7 linked regions of the Homo sapiens genome follow. The protein of the gene in region 3 purifies or fractionates together with the protein of the main gene of each other region. This does not show direct contact. Each region holds a gene or a part of one and is shown on either strand. Other genes may lie near its edges.

Evidence for each region.
Region 1: the proteins of USP42 (region 3) and CPNE3 purify together in Homo sapiens (affinity purification with mass spectrometry; one large-scale study listed by BioGRID and IntAct). This does not show direct contact.
Region 2: the proteins of USP42 (region 3) and MRPS21 purify together in Homo sapiens (affinity purification with mass spectrometry; one large-scale study listed by BioGRID and IntAct). This does not show direct contact.
Region 4: the proteins of USP42 (region 3) and DHX8 purify together in Homo sapiens (co-immunoprecipitation; one large-scale study listed by IntAct). This does not show direct contact.
Region 5: the proteins of USP42 (region 3) and BMS1 purify together in Homo sapiens (affinity purification with mass spectrometry; one large-scale study listed by BioGRID and IntAct). This does not show direct contact.
Region 6: the proteins of USP42 (region 3) and LRRC47 purify together in Homo sapiens (affinity purification with mass spectrometry; one large-scale study listed by BioGRID and IntAct). This does not show direct contact.
Region 7: the proteins of USP42 (region 3) and CA2 purify together in Homo sapiens (affinity purification with mass spectrometry; one large-scale study listed by BioGRID and IntAct). This does not show direct contact.

Annotation. Positions count from the first base shown.
Region 1 is NC_000008.11:86,548,621-86,552,856, forward strand, and holds part of CPNE3 (copine-3), read left to right. Parts: intron 1-2,425; coding exon 2,426-2,480; intron 2,481-2,562; coding exon 2,563-2,614; intron 2,615-4,236. UniProt on the Homo sapiens protein: Calcium-dependent phospholipid-binding protein that plays a role in ERBB2-mediated tumor cell migration in response to growth factor heregulin stimulation.
Region 2 is NC_000001.11:150,296,374-150,300,609, forward strand, and holds part of MRPS21 (small ribosomal subunit protein bS21m), read left to right. Parts: intron 1-4,236.
Region 3 is NC_000007.14:6,149,948-6,154,183, reverse strand, and holds part of USP42 (ubiquitin carboxyl-terminal hydrolase 42), read right to left. Parts: coding exon 3,882-4,236; intron 3,773-3,881; coding exon 3,678-3,772; intron 1,228-3,677; coding exon of another isoform or gene 1,215-1,227; exon of another isoform or gene 521-1,214; intron 429-520; coding exon 1-428. UniProt on the Homo sapiens protein: Deubiquitinating enzyme which may play an important role during spermatogenesis.
Region 4 is NC_000017.11:43,500,439-43,504,674, reverse strand, and holds part of DHX8 (ATP-dependent RNA helicase DHX8), read right to left. Parts: intron 32-4,236; coding exon 1-31.
Region 5 is NC_000010.11:42,792,293-42,796,528, forward strand, and holds part of BMS1 (ribosome biogenesis protein BMS1 homolog), read left to right. Parts: intron 1-200; coding exon 201-322; intron 323-664; coding exon 665-852; intron 853-1,559; coding exon 1,560-1,699; intron 1,700-4,181; coding exon 4,182-4,236. UniProt on the Homo sapiens protein: GTPase required for the synthesis of 40S ribosomal subunits and for processing of pre-ribosomal RNA (pre-rRNA) at sites A0, A1, and A2.
Region 6 is NC_000001.11:3,789,721-3,793,956, reverse strand, and holds part of LRRC47 (leucine-rich repeat-containing protein 47), read left to right. Parts: intron 1-4,236.
Region 7 is NC_000008.11:85,477,163-85,481,398, forward strand, and holds part of CA2 (carbonic anhydrase 2), read left to right. Parts: coding exon 1-113; intron 114-3,507; coding exon 3,508-3,627; 3' UTR 3,628-4,236. UniProt on the Homo sapiens protein: Catalyzes the reversible hydration of carbon dioxide. Can also hydrate cyanamide to urea. Stimulates the chloride-bicarbonate exchange activity of SLC26A6. Essential for bone resorption and osteoclast differentiation.

The sequences.
Region 1 (4,236 bases), on a different chromosome or scaffold from region 3:
TCTTTCTGTGATTAGTTATCATATATGGCATGTACTTTGCTTTATATTACATATAGTTTGCTACTTACTTCCTGACTGAATGTCAGCAAGGCTCTTGTTTCTTTAGTCTGGTTTCCTTGGGGCTTATTCATTAGGCATAAGTTGTATGAGTGATTGAAGCCCAGATGACATGTTTTATAAATACTGTTTATAAATACTAAATATTATTTATGTTAAATACTAAATACTATTTATAAATACTAAATACTATTTATGTTAAGAAATAAAAACTATTTCTTAGCATATCTATGTCCTTGGCAGTTGCCAAATTATTTTTTTAACGGTGACTTTTAACAAGTGCTGAAGGATAACTAGATCTAATTGCTATGAAATATTCTGAATGGTTATCAATGGTTAGGTTTTGAAAAGATTTAAATAGGTCCTATTGAGGGTTTACTAAACAATAGGGAAAACATCTGCATTAGTAGTGTTTTTCCTGATGTAGCGTTAAGAGTACAGAATAAAATTTCACTTGCTTTTGTCTATTATTATTTTATTTACATATTGATGGGGCTTTTCATTAATCTGTAGCATTTAAAGAGGTGAAATTTTTAGGCAAATGCAAAGAAATCTAAAGTAAGGTGGCAATTCCAATTTCAGGCTAGTAAGTTTTAAGGTAAAAATCATTAAATATATTTAACATATATAGAAAGTTACTTTATTAGACAGTAGTGAGAGCTTAGAAAGGTGGTCAAATATAACATAGGATTAAAAAATTAATAATTTCTCACTAGCAGATATTAAAAGTATTATTGCAATTATCTTAAGAGTATGGAATTAGGACATGACCAGTGGAACCAAGCAAACAGTCCAGAAATAGACCCATGCATATAAGTGAATTTAGGGGAGGGGGTTGTAAAAGCTGTCAAACTGGACAAGAATTGAATTTGGATCCCTGACTCATACTTGCATGTTTTAGGATATTATTCTGTATAAATTAGAGTACAGACCAGACTGCTGAAATAGACACCCAAAAACAAAGTGGCTTTGACAAAATAGAGGTTTATTTCACTTCACATTGCTAGGGGTAAATATAATAGTTAAGAACTGATAGGGGAGTTCTGCTGTTCTCAATTCACAGCTTCCCTCCGGGGTTCCATAGCTCTGGTTCTCATCTTCTCCAGCCAGGGGGAAGAGAAGAAAGGGACCAGGGAGTGAATGTGCATTCCCTTTTAGGGGCATGATTCAGAAGTGGCTGGCAAATCACTTCTACTCACATCTCCATCTCTAGATCCCAGCCATCTGATCACATCCAGGCCAGAGAAGCTAGGAAGAGCAGTCTCTAGCTCAGGTGTTCTATTATTAAAGGAGAGAATGGATATTGCCGGAGAGCAGCAATTCCTGCTTCATATCCTACTTCAAAACACTTTCCAGATGAGTTAGAAGTTTAATGTCAAAAGCAAACTTTAAAGTTTTAGAAGAAAGTGTATGTGAATTGTTTATAATCTTGTAGTGAGGAAAACCTTTAAGCAAGAGAGCAAAGGCAAAAATCATGCAGCTTTTTTGTGTTCATATTCATTAATATTAAAAACTATGAAAAGAAAGATGCTTTAAACAAAGTTGAAGACAGACTACAAACTGGGGAAAAATGTGTCTTTCTTTCTTTTGAGAAAGGGTCTCGCTCTGTCACCCAGGCTGGAGTACAGTGGTGCAGTCACAGTTCACTGCAGCCTCCACTTCCTGGACCCAAGCAATCCTCCCACCTCAGCCTGGGGGAAATATTTCTGACATGGCATAGGCTCTATCTTCAGTGCAAAACTAACTGTTAAGAATAAATATGAAAGGAATATTCCTCGTAGAAAAATTATGTTCATTATGGTGTTTTATAATGGCGGAACATTGGCTATCAGACATCTGGGGGAGGATATCCATTTTGTGGGATACTCAGTGGCTATTCATGTGATGTTATATATTCGGTCCACTGTCCCTCTCCCTAATGTATGAATGTTTGTATTAAGTGGCATAAATAAAAGCTACCAATAACCTCTGATCATCTGAGGTCAGGTTTTGCTACCAAATGAGTTTGCCATCAATTAGTAAAAAAAGAATTGTGATTTTCAGGGCTTCATGTATTTATTTACTCATTTGATCACTGAAATGATACACAAGATTTAAGTAGAACAGAGTAGGTTATAAAACATGCATGTAAACTCCATTTCTACAAAATCTATAGAAAGAAACATTTTTCTTCCTCAGTGCACAGAAAAATATTTAGGATGAGAGTTGTCAAATATTAACATTGATTCTCTTTGGCAGTTAATATAGGTAATCTTTGTTTTATCTTCATACTTTTTGAAATGAGCTCATATGGATTTTATTGTGGGCAAAGATAAAGCTTTTTATTTTGGAAAAAACAGTATTTTATTAAATATTTTTTTCTTTTTAGTGATAAGATGTTTCCAGCTTTTGGTTTTGGCGCTCAGATACCTCCTCAGTGGCAGGTAAGAGGAAATCTCTATTTTAAAGCTTTGCCTCCTAGAAAAGCAGCCCAGCCCTCATCAGTCCTTTGTCCATCTTTGACAGGTATCACATGAATTTCCAATGAACTTCAACCCATCCAATCCCTACTGCAATGGTAAGTTAAAAAATAAACATGAAGACTTCAAATGGAAAGGCTCACTAGTCTTTGTTATTTTGTTCTTTGTTCTTTGTTTTTTTTCTTGTGATTAAAACTACTCAAATTTCATCTCTAGGTTTCATTTTCTTACATATTTAACTTTCTGTTGTATAAGGTAGAAGAATTGCACCAGGTTGGTGGTTAGGGTGGTAATGGTAATTACGGGGCAAATCAGTATTATGATGATGAAGGTGGTAAGCTAAATCCTCCTACCTTAAGAACTTTAATAGGACAAAAACATTCTCAATCTTTGGAGTAGATCAGTAAAAATATCATATATTAAAAGTATTTTTACATATAAATTTATTTAAAAACAAACCTTCAATAAAATGAGTAATTTGATATACAGATCTTTTGAAGCTTTTTTCAGAGTGGTAGTCACTCTCTACGAAGAGAAAAGTATCCAGCATCTAATACTTGTTGCTCACACAGTATTCTATAAGTAGCTGGGATGGGCAAAAGGAACAAAGAATTGATCTTCTATAGCAGCTTTCCTCTGTGTAGAGAGCAGGAGGCAAATATTTGTCTTTCATTTCACTTTTTTCTTTTATTTATTTAAAAAAATAGAGACAAGGTCTCGCTATGTTGGCCAGGCTGGTCTTGAACTCTTGACCTCAAGCTATCTTCCTGCCTTCTGCCTTGGCCTCCCAAAGTACTGGGATTAGAGGCGTGAGCCACCATGCCCAGCCACGTTTTACTTTTTTCCTTATACCTCAAGTATCCAAGTGCTGCTTCTTTTTTTTACCACATTGAGCAATCAGCCAGAAATGCCAGCTCTTCCACTAAATTATATATCAGACTAAAGAGTTTGGAGAAGGCAAGGTAGGTGTGGGAGCAGAGGCATAATTTAAAATTCTAGACAATACTCTAATTTTCTGCAAAGGGTCCTTTTGACAATTACAAATGTATAGCTTTCTAACAGAAGAAAATGTTTTTTCCTTTTCTTCCTAAACAATATTCATAAGGTGGAAGAGCATGAACAATTTTTGTGGCGGCCGTTTGCAATATGGTTTTGTTCTTTTCCCCAGAACACTTTTTCCATACTAATTCAGTGTTCTTTGAGGCACTTTCAGTGACTGGTTGTGACCTCTTTTATTCCCTAGCCATTTGAAACTGGGAATGTTATTCTTTTTAAGAAATATGCTTCATTTTTATAATGAAAGTGGATAATCTTTAGAATTTGTTGTAATTAGCTTTCATTTATTGTAAATGAATATGGATGACATATCATATGATAATTCATTTTAGAAGTTCAGTCACTCTGTGAGTAATGTAAGCCCATCCTTGGGCTGTTCACCAAGTGGTTTACACTCTGGAAAAAGCATCAGTTTGGTTTTAAACAAAGGAGATACTATACAGCAAAAAGCTCAGAGCCTTATTTTAAGGCAAGGAAGTTTAATCCCCTTTTCCTAACTAATCATTGAATCTAGTTGCCTTAGAAATAATATGCCTTAGAAATAACTTGTTACTTTGATGCATAGAAAGGGTTTTGGCATAATTCAGTTTTAATTAAGGAATTGAAAGCTCTTGATATTTGTGAAGAAATTATTATTATTATTAATTTTTTTTTTTTTTTTTTC
Region 2 (4,236 bases), on a different chromosome or scaffold from region 3:
TAACATTTGGAGAAACAAACGCTTGTTGAGTTGAATTATCAAAGAATTGTAAGGAAGGGGCTCCTGTAGTGCTAGCTGCTCCAGAGGCTGAGGCAAGAGGATTGCTTGAACCCAGGAGTTCAAGACTGTAGTGTGAGTGCACTCTTGTTGTGCCTGTGAATAACCACTCCACTCTAACCTAGGAAGCATAGTGAGACCATGTCTCTTAAAAAAAATGTAGGAAAGATATTGCATGGGCTGCATTAAGGCCTTTAATGTGGTAGCTTTATTTCACAAGTAAGGGAAGCCTTGGAAGATCAGATTATCTTTATTGGGTTATGCAGTTATTGAATGGTGGAGAGGAGCCTAAAGCACATCTTTTTAGTGCAATGTTCTTTAATAATTATTACTAGTCTTACTAGAAATGGAAAGACTTATGGTGGTTCATTTTCCAATTTAGAATCCTTGTCTTGTCATTTCAGCAGGTGTCGCTTTAAAAAAAAAACCAGAATCCTCATCTGATTGGGTTTAAATATTGGTAGGGTTCTTGAGGACTGAGAGGGCAAAGGAAAGGGAACCTAGTTCTTAGCAAAGCAGAGAGTTCTAGGTGTGGAAGGCTGGATGGCAGAAGACCACAGTGAGGAAAAAAATGCTGTCAGCCGGGCGCGGTGGCTCACGCCTGTAATCCCAGCACTTTGGGAGGCCAAGGCGGGCGGATCACGAGGTCAGGACATCGAGACCATCCTGGCTAACACGGTGAAACCCCGTCTCTACTAAAAATACAAAAGATTAGCCGGGCGTGGTGGCACACACCTGTAGTCCCAGCTACTGAGGAGGCTGAGACAGGAGAATCGCTTGAACCCGGGAGGAGGAGGTTGCAGTGAGCCGAGAGCGTGCCACTACACTCCAGCCTGGGCAACAGAGCGAGACTCTGTCTACAAAAAAAAAAAGAAAAAATGCTGTCAGAAGCTGTGTAAATGAGAAGCAGTTGCAGGCTCAGAATGGTTTCTATGTCTTTTAAAAGGATCTGGTCTTAGGGTCAGGCGTGGTGGCTCATGCCTGTAATCCCAGCACTTTGGGAGGTTCAGGCGGGTGGATCACCTGAGGTCAGGAGTTCAATACCAGCCTGGCCAACATAGCGAAACCCTGTCTCTACTAAAAATACAAAATTAGCCATATGTGGTGGCAGGCGCCTGTAATCTCAGCTACTTGGGAGGCTGAGGCAGGAGAATCACTTGAACCTGGGAAATAGAGGCTGCAGTGAGCCAGAATCGTGCCACTGCATTCCAGTCTGGGCCACAGAGTAAGACTCAAAAAAAAAAATCTGGTCTGGGGTCAGCCACATCACTTAATTCTATGTGCATAACAATTATATCCTTGGGCTGAAGCTGTTCCCTCTACATTGTCACCTATGCTGAGAGTAAAGATAAGTACCAGGTTGTAAGGTATCCTGTTTCATTTTTCTCTGTTTCTCCTCATTTCTAACTCTCCTATTTCATACCTTCTGGTGGCATGTCTGAGAAGTATATTATGTCTAATGACCTTTCTCTGGCCCTACTTTGCTATCTTGGAAGTACAAAATGAACTTTTTTTTTTTTGAGACAGAGTTTCACTCTTATTGCCCAAGCTGGAGTGCAATGGTGCCATCTCGGCTCACCGCAACCTCTGCCGCCCATGTTCAAGCGTTTCTCCTGCCTCAGCCTCCTGAGTAGCTGGGATTACAGGCATGCGCCACCAAGCCCAGCTAATTTTGTATTTTTACTAGAGATGGGGTTTCTCCAGGTTAGTCAGGCTGGTCTCTAACTCCCAACCTCACATGATCCACCCGCCTTGGCCTCCCAAAGTGCTGGGATTACAGGCTTGAGCCACTGCACCTGGCCTAAAATGAACGTCTTTATAGGTAACATCCAGACCCTGCAGTGAGTTAGCTAGGGAGATGAATGTTGAATTTGGGAAAAGGCATGTATTACGTGTAACTTCACTCTTTTTTTCTGACTTCTCCCTGTAAATCTTCTTCTGTATGATTTATTTTGGTAGATTTAGATAGGTCTTCTGGCCATGGTTGTTGAGATGTTTGTTATTGAAAGATCAAAGGATAGCTGTTGCTTAATGGTAAAACAAATTTCCAACAGGCTCAGTTTTAGTTCCCTTATTCCTAAAGTATAGATAACACAAAAGCAAGAATTTTGTTTTTAGAAAATTAGCTACTTTGACAAAAAACAACAAAATTTGTGGTACAGTATTATTTATTGAACCACTTTTTTTTTGAGACGGAGTCTCCCTCTGTCGCCCAGGCTGGAGCGCAGTGGCGCAATCTCTGCTCACTGTGACCTCCGCCTCCCGAGTTCAAGCGATTCTCCTGCCTCAGCCTCCCGAGTAGCTGGGACTACAGGCGCATGCCACTACCCCGGCTAATTTTTTGTATTTTTAGTAGAGACGGGGTTTCACCATGTTAGCCAGAATGGTCTCGATCTCCTGACCTCGTGATCTGCCCACCTCAGCCTCCCAAAGTGCTGGGATTACAGGCGTGAGCCACCATGCCCAGCTGAACCACTTCTTACAGTTGTATCAAGAGAGTAGCGGCTGGGTGCAGTGCCTCAGTCTTGTATTCTCAGCAATTTGGGAGGCTAAGAATGGTGGATCACTTGAGGCCAGGAGTTCGAGACTAGCCTGGCCAACATGGCGAAACCCCGTCTTTACTAAAAATACAAAAATTAGCCATGCATGGTGGCACAGGTCTGTAATCCCAGCTACTCCGTAGGCTGAGGCAGAAGAGCCGCTTGAACCTGGGAGGCAGAGACTGCAGTGATGCCCCATATCATATATGGAATGCATCCCCATTTACACCTAAAATTTGAAACAGAATCTGAGAAACAAAATATTTCTAATCTCCTTCCTGATCCTCTTCACTGATACCAGGTTTGCAGAAAATATAAGGCCAGCTCTTATCTTTTGAGAGAAGACTCTTATTTCTTTGTCTAAGATTGTCTATACCCCTTTTTATCTGCCTCTTTTAAAAATCCTTGTCCAGCCACTATATTTTTAATTTAATCAACACTCAGTTTTTGCTTTTCCTGTTTTTTTTTCTGTTTTTTGTTTGTTTGTTTGTTTGTTTGTTTGAGACGATGTCTCGCTCTTGTCCCCCAAGCTGGAGTGCAGTGGCATGATCTCGGCTCACTGCAACCTCCGCCTCCCAGGTTCAAGTGATTCTCCTGCCTCAGCCCCCCGTGTAGCTGGGATTACAGGCACTTGCCACCACGCCTGGCTAGTTTTGGTATTTTTAGTAGAGACGGGGTTTCACCATGTTGGCCAGGCTGGTCTCGAACTCCTGACCTCAGGTGATCCACCCGCCTCTGTCTCCCAAAGTGCTGGGATTACAGGTGTGAGCCACCACACCCAGCCCACATACTACTTTTATGGTTCTCTTTTTGTTGGTGACTGGCATTTTACACAAACCTATTTCCTGGGTCGAAGTGTTAATATTAGAGAGCCGGAGAGTGGTCAGTGTGACACCCTGTGGTTTCAACCCTGGCTGCCTATTAGGATCACCTAGGGAACGAACCATCAAGAAAACAAAACTAATGCCAGGGCCCAATCTGAGATGAATCAGAATCTCCAGGGGTTGCAACCTGGATGGCAGCATTTTAAAAAACATACCATGAGATTTCACCAGGATTGAAAATTATTATAATAGACTTGTAGCCTCCTGGCTGGGCACAGTGACTCATGCCTGTAATCCCAGCACTTTGGGAGGCTGAGGGGGGCGGATCATTTGAGGTTAGGAGTTCAAGACCAGCCTGGCCAACATGGTAAAACCCCGTCTCTACTAAAAATATAAAAATTAGCCGGGTATGATGGTGCATACCTGTAATCCCAGCTATTCGGGAGGCTGAGGCAGGAGAATCGCTTGAACCTGGGAGCTGGAGGTTGCAGTGAGCCGAGATCGCGCCACTGCACTCCAGCCTGGGTGACAAAGTGAGACCCTGTCTCAAAAAAAAAAAGGCTTGTAGCCTCCTTAAGGACAGAAACCTATGCTTTTTCATTTGTGTATCTCTTGGATTTACCAAAGTGTCTGGCACATCCAAAGCTCTCATTAAATGTCTACTTAATGAACATAAATGTTCCTTTATCTTTTTTGTCACTTATTTAATGTTTGTCAAACTTTTTTACTGAAGTGTCGTTAACAGCAGAGGAGAGTGAATGAACTATAGGGGTTCTGCTACTATAAGCAAACATGGAATTTCTTTGAAGCTTCCC
Region 3 (4,236 bases):
CGCTGGGGTGAACAAGGAGTGGCTGCTCGCAGGGCTCCTCCGACCGCGCAGGCGGAGCCGGACTCAACCCTTCCGGGGCTTCCGCCAACGCCGAGTCCCGCGGGCCCTCCGCGATCATCCCCTTTGCGTCCTGGGACAACGGGCTCGCATCGCCTGTTAAGCTCCCGGGATCACACAGGTCAGGGGGTGCTGTGTCCCCCACGATGTCCTCGCCGGCGCTGGGCGGAGGCTCCTCGGGGGCGACGGCCATGGCCTCCCAGGCGCCTTCTTTGGTAGCGGGGGTGCCGGGATCGCGGGGCGGCGGAGCCTTCTTGGTGCTGCTGAGGCCGGCGGCCGCATCTGGCTCCTCCAGGGATTCGGCGGCGGGGCTGCCAGGCTGAGGCTCGGCGTCGCGGTCCTCGGGAGGGCCCCTCTCTGCTCCAGGTGCACTGCAGCCCCCAAACAAACAAACACGCCCGTTAGCGTGGGCTTGACAGGCTCATGTCATTGCATTACAAGGACAAATACTTCAAAACGTTCATTTGCTATTTCGTCTCTTTATTTTATTATTATTATACTTTAAGTTTCAGGCTACATGTGCACAATGTGCAGGTTAGTTACATATGTATACGTGTGCCATGCTGGTGTGCTGCACCCATTAACTCGTCATTTAGCAGCTATTTCGTCTCTTTAAATACATCTCGCCGAAGCCCAATATTAGGCTAGTACTACTATCTCTGGAAACTCCCAATTTTCTCTTTCCCTTATTAAATAAAAATAAAATGTTATATCATCAAGCCCAGCTCCTAGCCTATTTTTCAAAACAATAATCCTAGAGTTCTAGGCTCTTCCTGTTTCTGGATATCCCTCTAGTTCTTCCAATTCCTCTATTTTTTTTTTTTGTTTTGTTTCATTTTGTTTTGTTTTTTTGAAGGACAGAGTCCCACTCTGTTGCCCAGGCTGGAGCGCAGTGGTGTGATCTCAGCTCCCTGCAACCTCCATCTCCTGGGTGCAAGCGATTCTCCTGACCCAGCTTCCCGGGTAGCTGGGATTACAGGTGCCCACCACCATGCCCAGCTGATATTTGTGTTTTTAGTAGAGATGGGGTTTCACTATACCTTGGCCAAGCTGGTCTCGAACTCCTGACCTCAGGTGATCCGCCCGCCTCAGCCTCCCAAAGTGCTGGGATTACAGGCGTGAGCCACCGCGCCTGGCCGCAATTCCTCTAGTTCTTCCTAATAACTAAGACTAAAGAAAAAAAGTCCAGTGATGACAGGGCCTCCTCCTTTCCTCTCGACTCCCTTTCTCTGATTTCTCTTGGACCCTCAAAGGTAGAGGGGCCACCTCCAAACACAGCCAGCAGCTCCTCCAATTACTGACAAATTATGAGGAATCAGAGGCTTTAGCAAAACGTTCTGTAGTAAATTAACTTTGTCCTTTGATTCCCGCAGAGCTTTCGATATATCCTCGGGGTTAATAATGAAAGCTGCTGTGGCCTGGGCTTGTCTGCACAGCCACCTACCTCACCCTCACGCTACCTGGCCTAGGTGAGGCCAGAGTCCCCTGGCCGAGGGAGCGAGTGTCCAAGCTGGCCTATCCTTAGGTTGGGAATGAGTGTTCCCTGCCCACAGGGTTCGCCCCATTCCGGTTTAATATCTACGCCCTCCTAACAGAGGGCCTCAGTGAGGGCACTCCCACCCGCCGGGGGCCATTCTGGGGTTGCCACAGTGATGGGAGCCCCGCCAGCATGAACAGCACCCCCACAGGTGAGTGCCAACAACCGTGCGGGTAAAAACTACGGGTGTGTCACTGGCACGGTTTTCACTGACACTGACGTTTCCAGGAAGGCACCCAGTATATAAATCTAGAGTCGCTCATGCTGTGATTTGATCAGAACTTCACCAGAAGTTGTTCGCCATGAGAACACGACTTCCTGATGATGAACCCGCGCCTGGCACCGAGTATGGTGACATCCGGCCGCACTCTGAGCTGTCACTCACAGCCAACCTGTGCAGAGATGCAAGCACCGCCTGCACAGCCTCTCGCCACGGGGCCGTCCTGCTGCTGCTTTGCGAGGTGAAGCCACTGACGCTGCATGACAAATTCCCTTCCTCTCACTCCTGACCAACGTTACATTCACATTCTTCACTAACATGACATGATTTTTTTTTTAAATTGTGGGGCAGGTTTTATTATCTATAATTTCAGAATCCTTGAAGGGCCTTTACAAAGTACAGTCATGTACCTCATACATACGGTCAACAACAGACCACATATGATGGCGGTCCATAAGATCACAACATAGCTGAAAACTCCCGTCACTGTAACAGTCCAAGGGCAACGCGTGCCTCGTGAGTGTGGTGATGCTGGTGTAAACAAACCCACTGCACTGCCAGTCCCATGGAAGTCTAGCACATACGATTAGTACATAATACATGACAATGGCAATAAACGACTCTGCTGGCCGGGCACGGTGGCTCACGTCTGGAATCCCAGCCCTTTGGGAGGCCACAGCGGGTGGATGAGTTGAGGTCAGGAGTTTGAGACCAGCCTGACCAACATGGTAAAACCCTGTCTCTACTAAAAATACAAAAAAAAAATTAGCTGGGTGGGGTGGCGCATGCCTGTAGTCCCAGCTACTCAGGAGGCTGAGTCAGGAGAATTGCTTGAACTTGGGAGGCGGAGGCTGCAGTGAGCTGAGATCGCACCACTGTACTCCAGCCTGGTGACACAGCGAGACTCCGTCTCAAACAAAAAAACAAACAAAAAAAGAAGTTATTTTTGTACAGCTGTATGTTTGTGTTTTAAGCTAAGTGTTATTACAAAAGAGTCAAACAGTTTAAAATTAAAAGTCTATAAAGTAAAAAAGTTACAGTAAGCTAAGGTGTGTTTACTATTGAAGAAATCAATTTTTTTAACAAATTGAGTGCGGCTGAAGTGTGCAGTGTTTCCAGAGTCTACAGTAGTGTACCGTCCCAGGCCTCCACATTCACTCAGCACTCACTCACTGGCTCACCCAGAGCACCCTCCAGTCCTGCCAGCTCCATTCATGGTAAGTGCCCTGTGCAGGTGTGCCAGTTTTCCTCTTATACCATATTTTTACTGTCCCTTTTCTATGTTTAGATACACAAATACCACTGTATTACAGCTGCCTACGGGATCCAGTGCAGTCACAGGCTGTGCAGGTTTGTGGCCTAGGAGCCGCAGGACACACCATCTAGGTCTGTGTGACACACTGTGGTGCTGGCATGACAACCACATCCCCAAACGATGCATTTCTCAGAAGGCATCCCTGTTGTGGACGGACGGATGTCTGTATGTGCTTCTTCACAGGACTGAGAGCCCTGGCCTAGACCCTCAGCACACCCTCACATCATCATTTCTCATGAGAAAGATGAAATGAGATGGCACTTGAAGGCGTGCCAGTAACACCGCTAACCAGAGAGAGGTGGCCACGCAGGAGGAGAAATAGCATGGTGAGTACATCAAGTTTCCGTGGACTCAGTCCTGTATGCCACATTTTTTCTTTACTCTTCTAAAAGGCAAGTTAATAAATCCTATACATTATAATTCAAATCATTCTAGGATTCAAAATGTTCATTATAAAATTTCTACAGCATTCAAATACTGACACATCTGGAGGCTACTGGATTTCCTACTATGCTGCCACACGTGCCTCAGATGTACTCTTACGTTACCTCATTTCATCCGTCGAGCCTTTCAGTTTGTTGCTAAGCCTGAAGGTCTCTAAGATTTTGTCTTCTGGGAGAGACAGCAAAGGAGCAGGCATCAACTGCAATAAAAACAAAAATATTTCAGCTTCAGTCGCCAGCTCCATGCCTCCTGAAATCCAGCCAAGGGAACCGCCACAAACGAGGCTGAAGACCCTGACGTGCACTCACCTTTCCAGGAAGACCGTTTGCCTTAGCAAAGGGATTTTCTGAGTGCAGGGCAGGCTGGCCTTGGCAGCTGGCACCATCAGGCGCTAGGCCGTTTTCTTTCGGGTCACTGTCGCTGTCTGCACTATTAGCACCGTTTAGGGTCATGGGTTCTTGAAGCTCGTGCGGAGTGGCCTCCTCATCTTCGGCATCTTGGCCGGGAGAGTGGGAGCTCACAATCGTACCAATCCCATTCTCCTTGCCCAGCCCCTTTGACTCCTCGTCAGAGTCCTCAGAGGACTCGGCGCCATAGGGCACCAGCACGCTGGAGTTCAGCTTGGATTTGCCATTCATCACGGGCTGGGAGCAGGATTCACTG
Region 4 (4,236 bases), on a different chromosome or scaffold from region 3:
CTCATGTTGGCAGCAATCTGTCTGCCTTCCGCTGGAAAGGAAAACAGGCAACTTAGTATTGTCCTCAAGCTACCTCAAGATGTACCAGGAAAAAAATAAAATGGCATGCGGGCACTGCACATGCAGCATCTCAATTCAGCGACCCGTGATCAAAAGTACTCAAAGAAACAAATTAATGTGAAGAAAAGAATATAGAAGGGGCAGCAGGGAATGGGAAAGAGACTGTAACAAGTGGTGCTACACACCTGTGATGTCAGAAAAAAGGTTAGTTGAGAGAAGTGAAGACCTGACTGCTTGACACTGGAATTATTTTTTTTTAGGTAGGGTCTTGCTCTGTCATCCAAGTGGGAGTGCAGTGGTGCAATCCTGACTCACTGCAGCCCCGACCTTCTGGGCTCAAGCGAGAAGAGGTCACTCTATGTTGCCAGGCTGGTCTCGAACTCCTGGGCTAAAGCAATCCACCCATCTCACCCTCCCAAAGTAATGGAATTACAGGTATGGCCACCATGCGCAGCACTCTCCCCTTTTTAAATAACTGCTATATCGAGATGTAATTCACAAACCATGTTACACTTTTTTTATTTTATTTTATTTTTTTGAGACAGGGTCTTGCTCTGTTTCCCAGGCTGGAGTGCAGTGACGCAATCACGGCTCACTGCAGCCTCAAATTCCTGGGTTCAAGGAATCCTCTCTCCTTGGCCTCCCAAAGTGCTGGGATTACAGGTATGAGCCACCAAGCCAGGTCTCCGTGTTACTCTTTTTAAGTGTTTAACTCAGTGTTTTACTGTATATTCATTAAGTTGTGCAACTATCCCCACTATTTAGAGTATTTTCATCATATCAGAAAGAAACCCTGTACCCATTAGCAGTTACTCCCCATTCCTCCCTTTTCCTTTCCCTTGGCAACCATTAGTCTACTTTCTATGTCTACGGGTTCTATTCTGGATACTTCATACAATATGTGGTCTGTTGTGCCTGGTTTCTCTCAGATTAATTTTTTTCTTTTTCTGAGACAGGGTCTGGCTCAGACGCCCAGCAGGCTGGAGTGCAGTGGCGAGATCTCAGCTCAGCAACCTCCACCTCCTGGGCTCAAGCAATCCTCCCACGTTAGCCTCCTGAGTAGCTGGGAATACAGGTGCACGTGATTACACACGGCTAAACTTTTTTTTTTTTTTTTTAGATGGAGTTTCGCAATTGTTGTCCAGGCTGGAGTGCAATGGCGTGATCTCGGCTCACTGCAACCTCCGCCTCCCAGGTTCAAGTGATTCTCTTGCCTCAGCCTCCCTAGCAGCTGGGATTACAGGTGCGTGCCACCACATCTGTTAATTTTTCTGTTTTTAGCACAGATGGGGTTTCACTATGTTGGCTAGGCTGGTCTCAAACTCCTGACCTCAGGTGATCCACCCGCCTCAGCCTCCCAAACTGCTGGGATTACAGGCATGAGCCACCATGCCTGGACTAATTTTTGTATTTTTTTAGAGACAGGGTTTCACCACATTGCCCAGCTTGGTTTCAAATTCCCCAACTCAAGTGATCTGTCTGCCTCAGCCTCCCAAAGTGCTGGGATTACAGGTGTGAGCCACCTTGCCCAGACCTAGCTTATATTTTCAAGATTCACCTTGGAATTGTGGCTTGAGGAGCAAAAAAAAATGAGCAGAATTTTAGTGGCTCTCTAGCATATGCAAACATTTTACAAATTTGATGCCAAAAGCTGGCTACGAAAAAATACTTATGCCTACTAACCAAATAAGTGAGCTTAGGCAGAGGCCAAAGGAGGGTCATGGAGAACATTTCACTAAAGGGTAAAAGGGAATGAATGGGTTTATTCTGAGGAAATGGAAGATGATATTGTTAAACAATGAACGAATATGTCCAACCTTCTACTGTAAATCTAATATTTTGGTTTTTATTTTTGTCGTTTTTAAAAATTTAATTTTAAAATAGAGACAAGGGCTAGGCACGGTGGCTCACCAGTAATCCCAGCACTTTGGGAGGCCAAGGTGGGCAAGATCATTTGAGGTCAGAAGTTCGAGACCAGCCTGACCAACATGGTGAAACGCTGTCTCTACCAAAAATGCAAAATAATTACTCGTGCGTGGTGGCGGTCACCTGTAGTCCCAGCTACTTGAGGCTGAGGCAGGAGAATCGCTTGAACCCAGGAGGCAGAGGTTGCAGTGAGCCAAGACTGCACCACTGCACTCCAGCTGGGGCAACATAGTGAGACTCCATCTCAAAAACTAAACTAAACTAAACTAAAATAACAAAACAAAACAAAATAAAATAAAATACAGATAAGGTCTTACTATGTTGCCCAGACTGGTCTTGAACTCCTGGCCTCAAGCAATTCTCCTGCCTCGGCCTCCCAAAGTGTTGGGATTACAGGCGTGAGCCATCATGCCGAACCTAATCTAATATTTGAATCTCTATTACATGCAGCCAAACTGATATCTAAATTAACACAATTCCCAAACTTCTGTCTCCAGCCCAGACCTCTCTTCTGAGCTCTTATACTCAATTCTACACTGGATACCTCAACCTAAGATGTCCTCTAGTTGCCTCGGACACAAGTCCAAAACGGAATTTGACCATCTTTCCCCACAAACCCATTTCTCCTCCAGTGTTCCCATCATTCATCCTAGTGCTCATACCAGAAACCTGGAAGTCATCTTTGACCATTCCTGTTGCCCCACATTCAACAAATTACTTTTCTCAAGTACATCCCTCCTCTTTGCTACCTCCATGTTCAAGCCACCATTCTCTCTCTTCATAAAAGCTTTCTAAATCATCACATGTGCCCCATCCAACTCATTCTGCAGGGCACCCTCAATCATCCTTTGGAAATGCAACTCTGGTCATGCCATGTGCCAGCTGCAAACTTTCAACATCTGGCTGGGCACGGTGGCTCACACTTGTAATCCCGGCACTTTGGGAGGCTGAGATGGGGGGGGGATCACCTGAGGTCGCGAGTTCGAGACCAGCCTGACCAACATGGAGGAACCTCGTCTCTACTAAAAATACAAAAAATTAGCTAGGCGTGGTGGTGCATGCCTGTAATCCCAGCTACCTGGGAGTCTGAGGCAGGAGAATCACTTGAACCAGGGAGGTGGAGGTTGCAGTGAGTCAAGATCATGGTGTTGCACTCCAGCCTAGGCAACAAGAGCAAAACTCTGTCTCAGAAACAAAAACAACAACAACAAAAGAACTTTTCAACATCTCCCAGTGCTATTAGAATTGAGCCCAGCTTCCTAATGCCACCTACAAAGCCCTGGCCTGATGTTCTTATCTCATCCCCTACCACTGCCCACTGCTCTCTCTATTCCATCCACACAAGCCTTCTTTCAGTTCCTTCTTTCCCACCCCACAAACCCAACACGGGCTACTCCTCAGGCTGGAACATACTCCCCAACCTCCATCCCATCTCCACTTGACAGACTGAGTCCAATTTATCCTTTGGGTCTCGATTTCCCCAGGGAAGTGACCCACCACAGTCAATTACACTGCCTGTACTTCTTCACATGGCACTGATCATAATTTAATTATTTGGTGATTATTTAATTAATATCCATATCCCCGACTAAGTTGTAGCGCATAAAAGCAGGGATCATATCTGTTTAATTCAAATCGTATCCCCAGTTGCCAAACACAAATTAAATTAATAAGTATTTGTTATGACTATATCTAGTAGCTAATATTTACTGCACAAAGAATTATATGAAAAAGGAAGCTTCAAAGCTGTATTACCTTTAGAATAAAAATTTTTTTTTTGAGACGGAGTCTCACTCTGTAGCCAGGCTGGAGTGCAGTGGCGCGATCTTGGCTCACTGCAACCTCCGCCTCCAGGGTTCAAGCGATTCCCCTGCCTCAGTCTCTCGAGTAGCTGGGACTACAGGCGCGCACCACCACACCTGGCTATTTTTTGTATTTTTAGTAAAGACGGGGTTTCACCATGTTGGCCAGGATGGTCTCGATCTCCTGACCTTGTGATCCGCCCGCCTCAGCCTCCCAAAGTGCTGGGATTACAGCATGAGACACCGCGCTAGAATAACATTTTTAAAGTGATTCAGAAGAAAAACTCAGTCTAATGATTTGACCATGGCTATTAAAACATTTTTGGTTTTAAACATGTGTTTAAGAAAAAACCAAACATGCTCTAACTGAAGTGAAAAACCAAGGGTAAATTTTTTTTTCGAGATGGAGTGTCATTCTATCACCCAGGCTGGAGTACACTTGCCTGAT
Region 5 (4,236 bases), on a different chromosome or scaffold from region 3:
CACTTTCAGCCTAGAGACACAGTTGTGTGTCTGCCCCTTTTCCTCTGGTGGATGGTGAATGGTGCCTCCTTATTTCTGCATTTTCTAGTTTTCTAAATGACGTGCTTAATGGACAAGAGTGTGATGAATCATTGACACATGAAAGGAGGTATAGGAACTTTTGGCATTCATTTCTGCTGTGATTGAATTTATTTTTCTAGGATGGAAGATTTGACAAACCCAGAGGATATCCGAACAAACATCAAATGTGACCGGAAGGTGTCACTTTATGGTTATTTAAGAGGAGCACACTTGAAAAATAAAAGCCAAATTCACATGCCAGGTATTCTCTTGTTGTAGAACATACTAGAATTACACATAGGATTCTTGGGATGGCTTCATTTCTCAGGAAAACTGAAAAATGACCAAACAAGGGAAGATGGCCTTGCTGGAGGTTTTAAAAGTAAGCCACCTATGTGTAGGCCTGCAAAGGTGTTACTGAATCCCCTCTTCTCTGACCTCTTGTCTTGTAGCTAGGGGGCCACTGTTCCAGTGTGGCACAATGCCCTTCTTTAGTGTTATGGGTTAAGCCCTTGGACTGTGGATCATATTTAACCCCCTAGTCAATGGTAGATGCTTCTGACTTCTTGTCAGCTGAAGCTGGCTTTTGGGTTCTGTCTTCCAGGGGTAGGAGATTTTGCCGTGAGTGACATCAGTTTCCTCCCAGACCCTTGCGCTCTTCCTGAACAACAAAAGAAGCGCTGTTTAAATGAGAAGGAGAAGCTGGTTTATGCGCCTCTTTCTGGAGTTGGGGGTGTGCTGTATGACAAAGACGCTGTCTATGTTGACCTTGGTGGCAGCCACGTTTTTCAGGTATCGGTGAGACGGGAGTCATTTCTCTGAACTTTCAGTATTCTTTCTGAATCTATTTTTTAATCACAAAAAGTAATGTACTCAGCTTTTATTTATTGAAGATTTTTCTCTTGTACTTATAATAAAGGCCCAAATGCATATTGTAAATATATAGGATAAAAATAATACTTTTTTTTTCATTGTACCAAGCAGAAGAGTCCTCTCCTTCATTCCTCCTTGATCCATGGCCCCAGCACAGGCATTGCTGCTGTGTGGCGCCTGCACGGCCCATCCCCGTTTCTACAAAATCAGTGTGCTTTCCAGCTTTCATTGGTCTTTTTCTCATTCACAATGGTCTCCTCATGCTGTATTTTAAAGTGGATTTCAAATATTTATTTCTTTGTTCTGAAGTGGAATTTTATTGGGTTAAAATCGGCTTATTTTAAAATATTAGAAAAGCTAGCATTGTTGTAGCTTTGGAGCTGAGGTTTTTCTAGCTAGGTTGTTTAGGTTATCAGGTTATATACTCCCTGAACTTTGGAAAAGTTTAATGGAGATGGGGATCCATTTCAAGCTTTGTTGTAAGGATTTTCTTCTCTGCTTTTTGAGGCATTAAGAAAGGTTCTTAGGAAATGTGTCTAAGATAATTTTGAGAAACTGAGTGAAGCTCGTGTCTCTCCAGGATCTTTGTGCTTTCCTCACGTGCCCTTTCTTGGTGGTCTTGACAGGATGAAGTGGGGCCCACCCATGAGCTGGTCCAGAGTCTCATCTCTACCCACTCCACCATTGATGCCAAGATGGCTTCAAGTCGAGTGACGCTGTTTTCTGATTCCAAGCCACTTGGGTCAGAGGATATAGATAATCAAGGGTAAGTCTGCTTTTTTTCTATTTTTAATAAAAAGATGTATTACAAAAGATCATATCACCCATAATTCAGCCATCATAACACATTTCGGTGGGATTCATTCTATGTTGTTTTGTTTTTCTTTGTGTGTGCATGTGTCTCTGAGGGCTCTTCACTTACCTGACATTACAAGGGAGTCTTTTCTTGAAATAAATTGCAGGATGCATTTTTCAACAGACCCCAAATATTCCTCAAATACCATGCCATCTTCCATAGGTTGCCTTTTGTTTTTTAAGAGACCTGAAGCCACTTGGCTTTCTTTTGGTGGCCAAAACACTAGAGCAAAGTCAGGGAGTTTGTGGCTGTCCAGAAGCCACATGCCTTGTCTCTGAAAGTTTTATTTAGATTGTGTTGTATTATCTCCTCTGGGTAGGTTTCCGTGGATGTATGGCTCATGTGAATTATTTTCCAGTCTGGGTTGGGGATTTGTATACCTTTATATGCAGTGGATGTTTGCAAAACATTGGTTTTGTTGTATTGATTTATGACTCCCAGTAAAATTTATCTGAAAATTTTGAGATTATCTAGTATGTAATTTGGTACAATGTGCATAAACTACCTAGCAGAATGCCTGACAGGTACGAAGTGTTCGCCGAAAGATCACTCCTTTATAATGGGATTACTAGCTATTTTCACTTTTGCATATCCTTCTAGTCATCTTTGTCTACAAGAATACTCTCCTCTAATATAGTTACAGTTAAAATACATAATTTTATTTCTATATTATCATTTCCTTCTTTTTTTTTTTATTATACTTTAAGTTTTAGGGTACATGTGCACAATGTGCAGGTTAGTTACATATGTATACATGTGCCATGCTGGTGCGCTGCACCCACTAACTTGTCATCTAGCATTAGGTATATCTCCCAATGCTATCCCTCCCCGCTCTGCCCACCCCACAACAGTCCCCAGAGTGTGATGTTCCCCTTCCTGTGTCCATGTGTTCTCATTGTTCAATTCCCACCTATGAGTGAGAATATGCGGTGTTTGGTTTTTTGTTCTTGTGATAGTTTACTGAGAATGATGATTTCCAATTTCATCCATGTCCCTACAAAGGACATGAACTCATCCTTTTTTATGGCTGCATAGTATTCCATGGTGTATATGTGCCACATTTTCTTAATCCAGTCTATCATTGTTGGACATTTGGGTTGGTTCCAAGTCTTTGCTATTGTGAATAGTGCGGCAATAAACATACGTTTGCATGTGTCTTTATAGCAGCATGATTTATAGTCCTTTGTCATTTCCTTCTTCTATACAGTCTTTATGTAGTCATCATTTTGTTATTATTGGTGTATTCTTTTTTTTTTGTGACAAGATCTTGCTTTGTCTCCCAGGCTGGAGTGCAGTGGTATGATCTTGGCTCACTTCAGCCTTGAACTCCCAGGCTCAAGTGGTCCTCCTGCTTCAGCCCCCCAAGTAGCTGGGACTACAGGAGTGCGCCACCACTCCTAGCTAATTTTTTTTTTTTTTTCTAGAGATTAGGTCTCACCATGTTGCCCAGGCTGGTCTCAAACTCCTGGGCTCAAGCAATCCTCCTGCCTTGGCCTCCCAAAGTTCTGGGATTACAGATGTGAGCCACTACCCCTGGCCTATTATTGCTGTATTCTAACTTACCCGTCTCTTATGGTATGATTTTCAGTTTTTTCAAATTTATGTTTTCTTAATTTTATATATCTTGCTACATTAAATAGCTTCATACAGTTTTCTTTTATCCTGTGATTTTAGCTTCCTGATGATTCTTCTGTATCAGTTATAGCACTGGTGACTTAAAATGGATGTTCTTCCTCTGTCATTCCTCCTACGTTTGTTAGCTGGCATTTTTAACAAAGAGCTTTCTCTTCTCCCCTTTATTTCGGTATCACTGCTGACTAATGCACTTGTGTTTTGTTCCATGGGTTATTTTCCATCACTATCATTATTCTTCCTGATGCCTATGCTGGCCCAGATTTGGCTGCAGGAGCCTTCAGCCTGTCTCCTGTGTCCTTTCAACTGTCTCTGTTAGTCTTTGAGCATTTCTCACTTTCTGACAGAACAAGAGGATCCAGGCTCATTTTGCCTTCTTTCTGCTTTGGGCCTGGACTTACCCATTTCTCTTAAGGATCATGTGTTTTTAGCTTAGAAATTAATCAGCTTTCCAAAAGATCTACAAAACAGTAACTTCTCTTTTGAGCAATTTTTTTCTAAAATTAGATTTTTGTTTTTTAAGGGTTATTCCTTTATTCTCTCTATAAGTTCTTTTGAAGTGTGGTGTTAGGGAACCATGCCCGAGTTTGCTTCTTAACTCTTCCAATGTTTATCAAATCATATTTTCCCTATGCTATGTCATCTTAAACAATTCCTTGACATTTTCTATTTCTTTGTATTTTCATTGACTATATTGCCATTTCTAGATTAGCTGATTAATGTACAAATTGAATTATTTTGTATTTCCTTGGTAATACAGGCTAATGATGCCAAAGGAGGAAAAACAAATGGACTTGAACACTGGTCGAATGCGT
Region 6 (4,236 bases), on a different chromosome or scaffold from region 3:
CCAAGGTGCTGAGATTACAGGCATGAGCCACCGCGCCCGGCCGAGTTTTATTACTAAATCAGCTTCCCCAAAAATTTGGAGGCGGGGTTTTTCAAGGATAGTTTGGGGAAAGGGGAGGGTGGCTAGGCAACGGGTGCTTGCTGCTGATTGGTTGAGGTGCAATCATAGGGGTGTGGGAAACGGTCCTGCTTACTGAGTCACTTCTGGCTGGGGCTGCGGGGAGCTCTTTTTGGTTTCAGGTAGAGCCATTGATCAGACATGCAAAAACCCTGAAAAGACACAGCTCAGAAGGCCGGTCTTAGGTTCCACAGTGCTGCTAGTGCTGTTATCTGCAGGAGTCACTGGGGAAGTCGCATATCTTGTGACCTCCAGAAGAATAGCTGGCAGTTGTTTATGTCTACCCCTTAGCAGAATTCAGGTTCCTCCATCCTCCTATCCTCGTGGACCCTCATTAGCTTTACAAAGGCAGTTGAGTTTTACGGAAGGAGTATTATCATTTAAATTACAAATGTCTCCCAAAGTTAGCTTGGCCCAAGCCCAGGAATAATTAAAGGTAGTTTGAAGGGCCAGGCGCGGTGGCTCCTGCCTGTAATCCCAGCAGTTTGGGAGGCTGAGGCAGGCGGATCACCTGAGGTCGGGAGTTCTAAACCAGCCTGACCAACATGGAGAAACCCATCTCTAGCTGGGCATGGTGGCACATGCCTGTAATCCTAGCTACTCAGGAAGCCAAGGCAGGAGAATCGCTTAAACCCGGGAGGCGGAGGTTGCAATGAGCCAAGATGATACCATTGCACTCCAGCCTGGGCAACAAGAGCAAAACTCCATTTAAAAAAAAAAAAAGGTAGTTGGAAGGCCAAAGATGGGGATTGGTTAGATCAGATCTCTTTCACCACCATAATTTTCTCACTGTTACAGTTTTTGCAAAGGTGGTTTCATTGGCATTTCCTGGAAGAGGCGAGTTCACTGGCATTTTCCTTGGTCCTCAGGGCTGTAGGCATCCCTCTAGGACTAAGGTGTGATGTTGGATACAGCATGGTCTACTCCCACCTTCCCACCTGACAGATACTTTTGGTTTTCCAGAGTGTTGATGTACTAGGCATGTATCTTAACATTGTGCCTTACATCATGTAAGTGTCCAGTCAGTTGCAATATTTCTCTTCAAATTCATAGATGTCTTTCAGTATTCAAGTTCTTAAAAGTGTTGTGGGCCAGGCCCACGCTTGTTATCCCAGCACTTTAGGAGGCCAAGGCGGGCGAATCACGAGGTCAAGAGATCGAGACCATCCTGGCCAACATGGTGAAACCCCGTTTCTACTAAAAATACAAAAATTAGCTGGGTGTGGTGGTGCATGCCTGTAGTCCCAGCTACTCGGGAGGCCGAGGCAGGAGAATCGCTTGAACCCGGGAGGCAGAGGTTGCAGTGAACCGAGATTGCACCACTGCACTCCAGCCTGGGTGAGAAAGTGAGACTGCGTCTCAAAAAAAAAAAAAAGTGTGCGTCCAGCTCTCTGTAGCACCTGCCTGGTAAAGCATTCCTCTTTATGGTGCCCAAAACAATGTCATTCAAGTCAAAGAGTGTGTCTTGTTTTCTAAATCCCAAAAGAGGTGGCCAAGTTCCCTTTCCCCTGGGCCATTCTGTTCGTAAATTTTAGGCGTCCAGTGGCTCTCTATCAGGAGACCTGTTTCTTGGAGGGTCATGCAAGAGCTATTGGAATCCCTTGTTGCACTCAGATGTCCTTTTGGGTACCTTTCTGAGGAATGGCTACCAGAACTATGCCCAGCAATGTAGCTACGCACATTGGAATTTCGCACACAAAGGCAAATGCATTTGATGTCCTTCCTGGTGCTGTGGGGAGATGGGGAGTGTAGAAAACCAGAAAACTGAGCTCAGAAACAGAAGGCAGGCTGGGCACAGTGGTTCATGCCTGGCATCCCAGCCCTTCAGGAGGCTGAGGCGGGCGGATCACTTGAGCCCAGGAGTTTGAGACCAGCCTGGGCAACATGGTGAAAACCTGTCTCTATAAAAAATACAAAAATTAGCTGGGTGTGGTGGTGTGCACCTGTAGTCCCAGCTACTCAGGAGGCTGAGGTGGGGTGAACGCTTAAACCTGGGAGGTTGAGGCTGCAGTGAGCCATGATCACACCACTGCACTCCAGCCTGGGCAACAGAGCTAGACCCTGTCTTAAAGAAAGGAGAGAGAGGCCGGGTGCGGTGGCTCATGCCTATTATCCCAGCACTTTGGGAGGCTGAGGCGGGCGGATCACCTGAGGTTGGGAGTTGAAGACCAGCCTGACCAACATGGAGAAACCCCGTCTCTACTAAAAATACAAAATTAGCCGGGCGTGGTGGCGCATGCCTGTAATCCCAGCTACTCGGGAAGCTGAGGCAGGAGAATTGCTTGAACCTGGGAGGCGGAGGTTTCGGTGAGCCAAGATGGTGCTGTTGCACTCCAGTCTGGGCAATAAGAGTGAAACTTCGTCTCAAGAAAAAAGGAGAGAAAGAAGGGGGAGGAAAGGAAAAAAAACAGAAGGCACGGGCTCCAGCCCTGTCTCTCTGTGGCTGCGTGCCGTTGGGTCTTGAAGGCTCTTTGCTCCTCTGTAGGAAGACTGGGAGGGTAACGCAGTACACGAAGAGGGAAAGAGATGGGGGAGGTAGTGCTGGTCATTGTGGCTGCTTGACTCCGAAACCACGAGGCTTAAAGCAGCAGCGGCTCTGCGCTCTGGGCTGGCTCCGCCAGACAGTGGACAGTGAACAGTGGACAGTGCTGCAGCTCTTGCTGCTGGTCGCTCGCGTGGCTGTGCTCAGCTGGCGTGGGCTCAGGGCTGGGCTGCCGGGGTGGGTGGGCTTCTCCGTGTGTCGTCTCGGGGCCTCTCCCTCCCCTTCTTTCACAGGGCTCAGGGCTCCTCAGTACAAAAGCAGCAGCTGCCAGCCCTTCTTCAGGCATCAACCTGGAACATGCTTCCTGCCACTTTCCTGCGTTCCGTGGGTTAACTAAGTGCGAGCCCAGTTCCGGTTCTTTGGGAGGACTGGCTCTTTAGGGGCCGCCAAAATAACAGCACAGAGCTTCTGCCTGTCCTTTCCCTCCCCAGAGGGGCGAGACTGCAAATGGAAGCAGCTCGGCCTGGCTCCTAGTGCCCATCCCCACAGCCATTCCCCAGGGAGCACCCCCAAGCCTGGGCTGGGACCTGCAGTGCAAAGGCCCTGACCCTCTTTCCTCCCAGCCACTGGGGACGAGGCCTCTGCTGTCCTATGGCCTCAGCAGTAGCTCTGCCTGCGTGGGAGCCTGGCTTCCCCAGTGTCCTGGCCTCAGAGCCACGTGGCTTGCTGAGACCTGAGAGCACCCGGCCGGCCCTCCCTGGCTGCTTCCCGCTGCTGTGGCCCGTGGGGCTCAGCTGGCAGTGCTGTGGTGAGCCGAGGATGGGGGCACGTCACACCTCTCCTGACTGCATTGTAAGTGGCCATCACGCAGGCGTGTGGTGTCCGTGTGGGAATGAGGGATGGATGGGACAGATGTTACCTGAACAGCTGATGTGGGCAGGACGGTGCCTTAGTAAAGACATCCTTTCAGGCCCTGGGCCACTCCCCTCCCAAGGCCAAGCTGCACAGGGGAGTTCAGCCTCAATGTGAACCCTCCTGAAGCCAAAGGCTCTCCCCCAGCTTCCGAGTTTCTCAGTTGCTGCCGGAGGGAGTGGGGCTCACTCAGGGGCTGGCGCTCCTTATTGGGTTGGTTTATGTCAGCCTGTCACCACCATGAAGTTAGGATCCTTCCCCGGCAGCAGGTCCCCTGCAAAAGCCATGGGCCCGGAAGGCAGCCGGTATGCCAGGCCAGAGTCAGGACCCACGTTGCTGCCGTCAGCTTAGCCACTGCGAGGGTTGTGTTTCCTGCAGTAGAGTGTCAGCTCCGGGTGACAGGTGACGGCATTTCATCCCATCAGGTGTCAGGAGGACCCCTAGCCACCCCCTGTGTAACTCATCCTCCCCAAAGCCAGTGTGCACCTCACATCCTTGCGGGCGCGCCTGCTTGCTCCCTCACACAAGTGAAAACTGACGCCACCCTCATCCACCCTTCATGTGTGAAATCTCTGGCTTCATTTCCTGCTGAGGCCGCCACTGGGTGCCCAGTGCTGGCCTGAGGGGCCAGCGTGCGACCTCGTCAGCAGGGCCTTGCATTTCTGACAAGGACTCCCCAACATGTGCGGCTTTGCGCCCCACCCAGATGGTGACTCTCTTGCCCT
Region 7 (4,236 bases), on a different chromosome or scaffold from region 3:
TTCCTGAATCCTTGGATTACTGGACCTACCCAGGCTCACTGACCACCCCTCCTCTTCTGGAATGTGTGACCTGGATTGTGCTCAAGGAACCCATCAGCGTCAGCAGCGAGCAGGTTTGTTTTGTAATGACAGGTCTGTTTACGGGTGGAGCATTTAGTCAAGGCAGAAGACCTTGGCCTCCAGAGTGAGAGAGAACTGAGATTTAATCCTTCTCCTGCTACTTCTTGCTATGGAAATAGTGCCTTTGATGGTGCCTAGCAAATAAACAGCGTTCAGTAAATCTTTGTTGTTATTAACTATAAACTTAGTTCGTTTAGTCTCTAAAATTGAATAGTCATTGTAAGGATTCAATGAGAAAGATGTCTGTCACCTAATAAATGCCTTTTTTTTTTTTTGCCAGTTATGAGGAAACTAAGGCTTAGAAAAGTGAGAGTTCATATTCAAGGTTACGCAGGTATCAGTGAGTTACCAGCCTACTACTCACTCACATAAGGGCTTTCTGCTATTTTATTTATATCAGAATGCATTTCTGAATCCTGACAGATGAGAGTCATCCCTTGGAGAACATGTATCTATTAAAACTCACTCCAGGTTGCTTTAGAGGCTTAGAGCAGGTATTCTTACATTTCCAATAAAATATAGTGTGTGATCGTCAAGTGATTAGTGCAGCTTCTAAGTCACTGATGAGCAGCCACTAAAGTGGATACAAATGAGTTTTTCCTAGACTTACCTCTTAGCGCACAGTTGAAATGTAGAAAGTGAACATTCCTTAGGATTCACAAGAGGATGGATCCTGAATAATTTAAGGATAGCTTTAGGAGCCAACAGTCTTGAAAATGGTAACTATGTGAGTAGTGGTAGTGTGATTTAAACCTACAAAAATGCTGAATAATAGAGGTTTAGAGCTGCAATGTGCAATAGAGATCATGTTGTCCAACTTTCTCATTTCACTGGCTTGAATCACATTGATCAACAGTCTGAGATGCAGGAAAATTGAAGTGTTTTCCACTCAGCTACCTTGCAACAGAATCAGGCCTGGGAGCAAGGATTCTATTCCTGTGTCCTCCCTTAGAATATGAACTTATGAATGCTGAAGATACTTCATATCTTTCTTTAAAGGAAATATGTATCTGACTGGAAAATTACTTGTAGCATATCAAAGTGGGCCTAAAAAATAGCATGCTTGGTATGTCACTTGAAGATTGACCTTGTAGTAATAACATATTTGAGTAAGCTTCTTGAAGTGTAGCGTAAGGAAAGATTATAATGCCCTTCTTTTTGTAGATGCAGTGTTTACATTATAATTTAAAACATGAATTTTTTTTTCTTCTTTCACTGAGAGCAATGCAACTTTAAAGCAATAGTCTGACATTTAGAGCCATTATAACAAATGGATTTATGGTGTATACACACCCACAGGCAGAAATACACATATAGATAAGGGCAGTTGAACCTACTGCATTAATCCCTGTACCCTGAGTTTGCTCTTTAAAGTTGAAAGTGGTATTAAACTAATGATGTTAATTGTATATATTGGCAAAATACCAATAGGGCTCTTTTTTTTGTCCTATAACATGGAATCTGGAGGAAGGATCATGCTCAGCTCAGGAAGCTAGGGCTGCAGGTCCTCCTCTATCTGAGTCCCTTGACTTGGCCTTGCCAATTGGTGACTTCATCCTCAAGGTGGTTGTAATAGCATTTTGAGCATCACATCTAGATATAACCACTTCTTGAGGAGGAAATGAATACCTCTTCCATTGGCTTCCTAAGAGCAGAGAAGCTCTTTCCTGAAGGCCCCTAGAAAACCTTTCACTTCTCACTGGCTAGAATTGTGTTTCTTGCTCAGTCCCTAGCCCGGGAATGTGATCATCACAGTCAGTTAAGACCTGCAGGTTTACCCCACTGAGGCTTACAGGGAGAGGGCGGATGTCTGTTAATGAGGAAGTATGGGGGGGCGTGGATTTTAGGTAAGCAGTATAAATGGGTCTGCTAATTCTGCTACCTTTATTTTCTATACCCAGGCTCTGTCTCTGTGATGCTAAAACAATGAGTCAAGTTGACTAATGTGACAGTGTAGTTTAATTGGTGCAGTGAGTAGCAGAAATCGGTTATACTGGTTTGATCAAAAGTTTGACCTGTTTACACTTTATGAACAGACTCTCTTTCAGATTGCTGGAATTCTGTTGTAACGAATCAACCCTATATATCCTTAGAATGCTCCCTTGCATTCAGTAACCATAGCTGTGCATGTTATAATGTATGTGCATGGAAGGTGGCTCTACGGGGGTGATTGAGGGACTATTACTGGACAAAAGAGATCAGGTTAAAGGCTGTTGATTCATGGGCTGCTATATTACTGTCCAAACCACCCTTTTGCATTTGGATCACGTCTTGGTTAGAGGGGGGAAAGTAGCACTTTTTGAGAACCTTGAAGAAGTGGGAGACTGTTCAACAGCTGCCTGTATCTCAGTGGTGGCCAGTAAACTGAAACAAGTTTATAAGGGAATAAAAATCAACCAGTGACAAGGGGTTCTAATGTTAAATGCATATATTGGCAAAATGCCAGTAGGGCTATGTAGGGTGGTGAGCACTCACAATTGTTCACTAAAATGCTGTTTTTAAAACAGGAAAGTAGAATGGTTGAGTGCAAATCCATAGCATGAGATAAATTGAGCTTCTTAAGGCAAATCAGCCTAGGCAAATTCATTTCCGTGTTTTTGTGTATTTGGAGATGCCAGCTCGTCACTCAGCCCATGGAGCTTACAGGTCCTGATCACTTGATCTAATTGTATGGATGTGGTAGTTTGTCTTCCCTGGGGCAGAAAACAAAGCTTTAATTTGGAACTAAAATTGTTATTATTTTGCATCTAAAGGTATGAGTTTATAGACTTTTGATGTTAGATTTTTAAATTAGAAGGTCACTGAAAATTTCCCTTAAAAATGACCCCAACGAATTTGTGTATTTTGTATAAATTGGTTTGTTATATTAAAGCATACATACATAATCTATATGTGATTATGTATTCATTAGGAATCAAACTGAATTTTGGCCATTGATGCACAGCACTGAATGTTGTGGAATGTAATTTTTGTTTGTTTTTGTTTCTGTTTTTTGAGGCAGAGCCTTGCTCTGTCGCCTAGGCTGGAGTGCAGTGGCGCAATCTCAGCTCATTGCAATCTCTGCCTCCAGGGTTTAAATGATTCTTGTGCCTTAGCCTCCTGAGTAGCTGAGATTACAGGTGCTCTACCACGCCTGTTTAATTTTTGTGTGTGTGTGTGTGTGTTTTTTTTTTTGTAGAGACAGGGTTTCACCATGTTGGCCAGGCTGGTCTCGAATTGCTGACCTCAAGTGATCCACCCGCCTCATGCCTCAGCCTTACAAAGTGCTGGGATTACAGGCATGAGCCACTGCGCCTGGCCGGGGAATGTATTTAAAGATATAACACAAGTATATAACTGAATACCATTGTGAAACATTAATTATCAATGTTTTATTGTGTCTTTTAGGTGTTGAAATTCCGTAAACTTAACTTCAATGGGGAGGGTGAACCCGAAGAACTGATGGTGGACAACTGGCGCCCAGCTCAGCCACTGAAGAACAGGCAAATCAAAGCTTCCTTCAAATAAGATGGTCCCATAGTCTGTATCCAAATAATGAATCTTCGGGTGTTTCCCTTTAGCTAAGCACAGATCTACCTTGGTGATTTGGACCCTGGTTGCTTTGTGTCTAGTTTTCTAGACCCTTCATCTCTTACTTGATAGACTTACTAATAAAATGTGAAGACTAGACCAATTGTCATGCTTGACACAACTGCTGTGGCTGGTTGGTGCTTTGTTTATGGTAGTAGTTTTTCTGTAACACAGAATATAGGATAAGAAATAAGAATAAAGTACCTTGACTTTGTTCACAGCATGTAGGGTGATGAGCACTCACAATTGTTGACTAAAATGCTGCTTTTAAAACATAGGAAAGTAGAATGGTTGAGTGCAAATCCATAGCACAAGATAAATTGAGCTAGTTAAGGCAAATCAGGTAAAATAGTCATGATTCTATGTAATGTAAACCAGAAAAAATAAATGTTCATGATTTCAAGATGTTATATTAAAGAAAAACTTTAAAAATTATTATATATTTATAGCAAAGTTATCTTAAATATGAATTCTGTTGTAATTTAATGACTTTTGAATTACAGAGATATAAATGAAGTATTATCTGTAAAAATTGTTATAATTAGA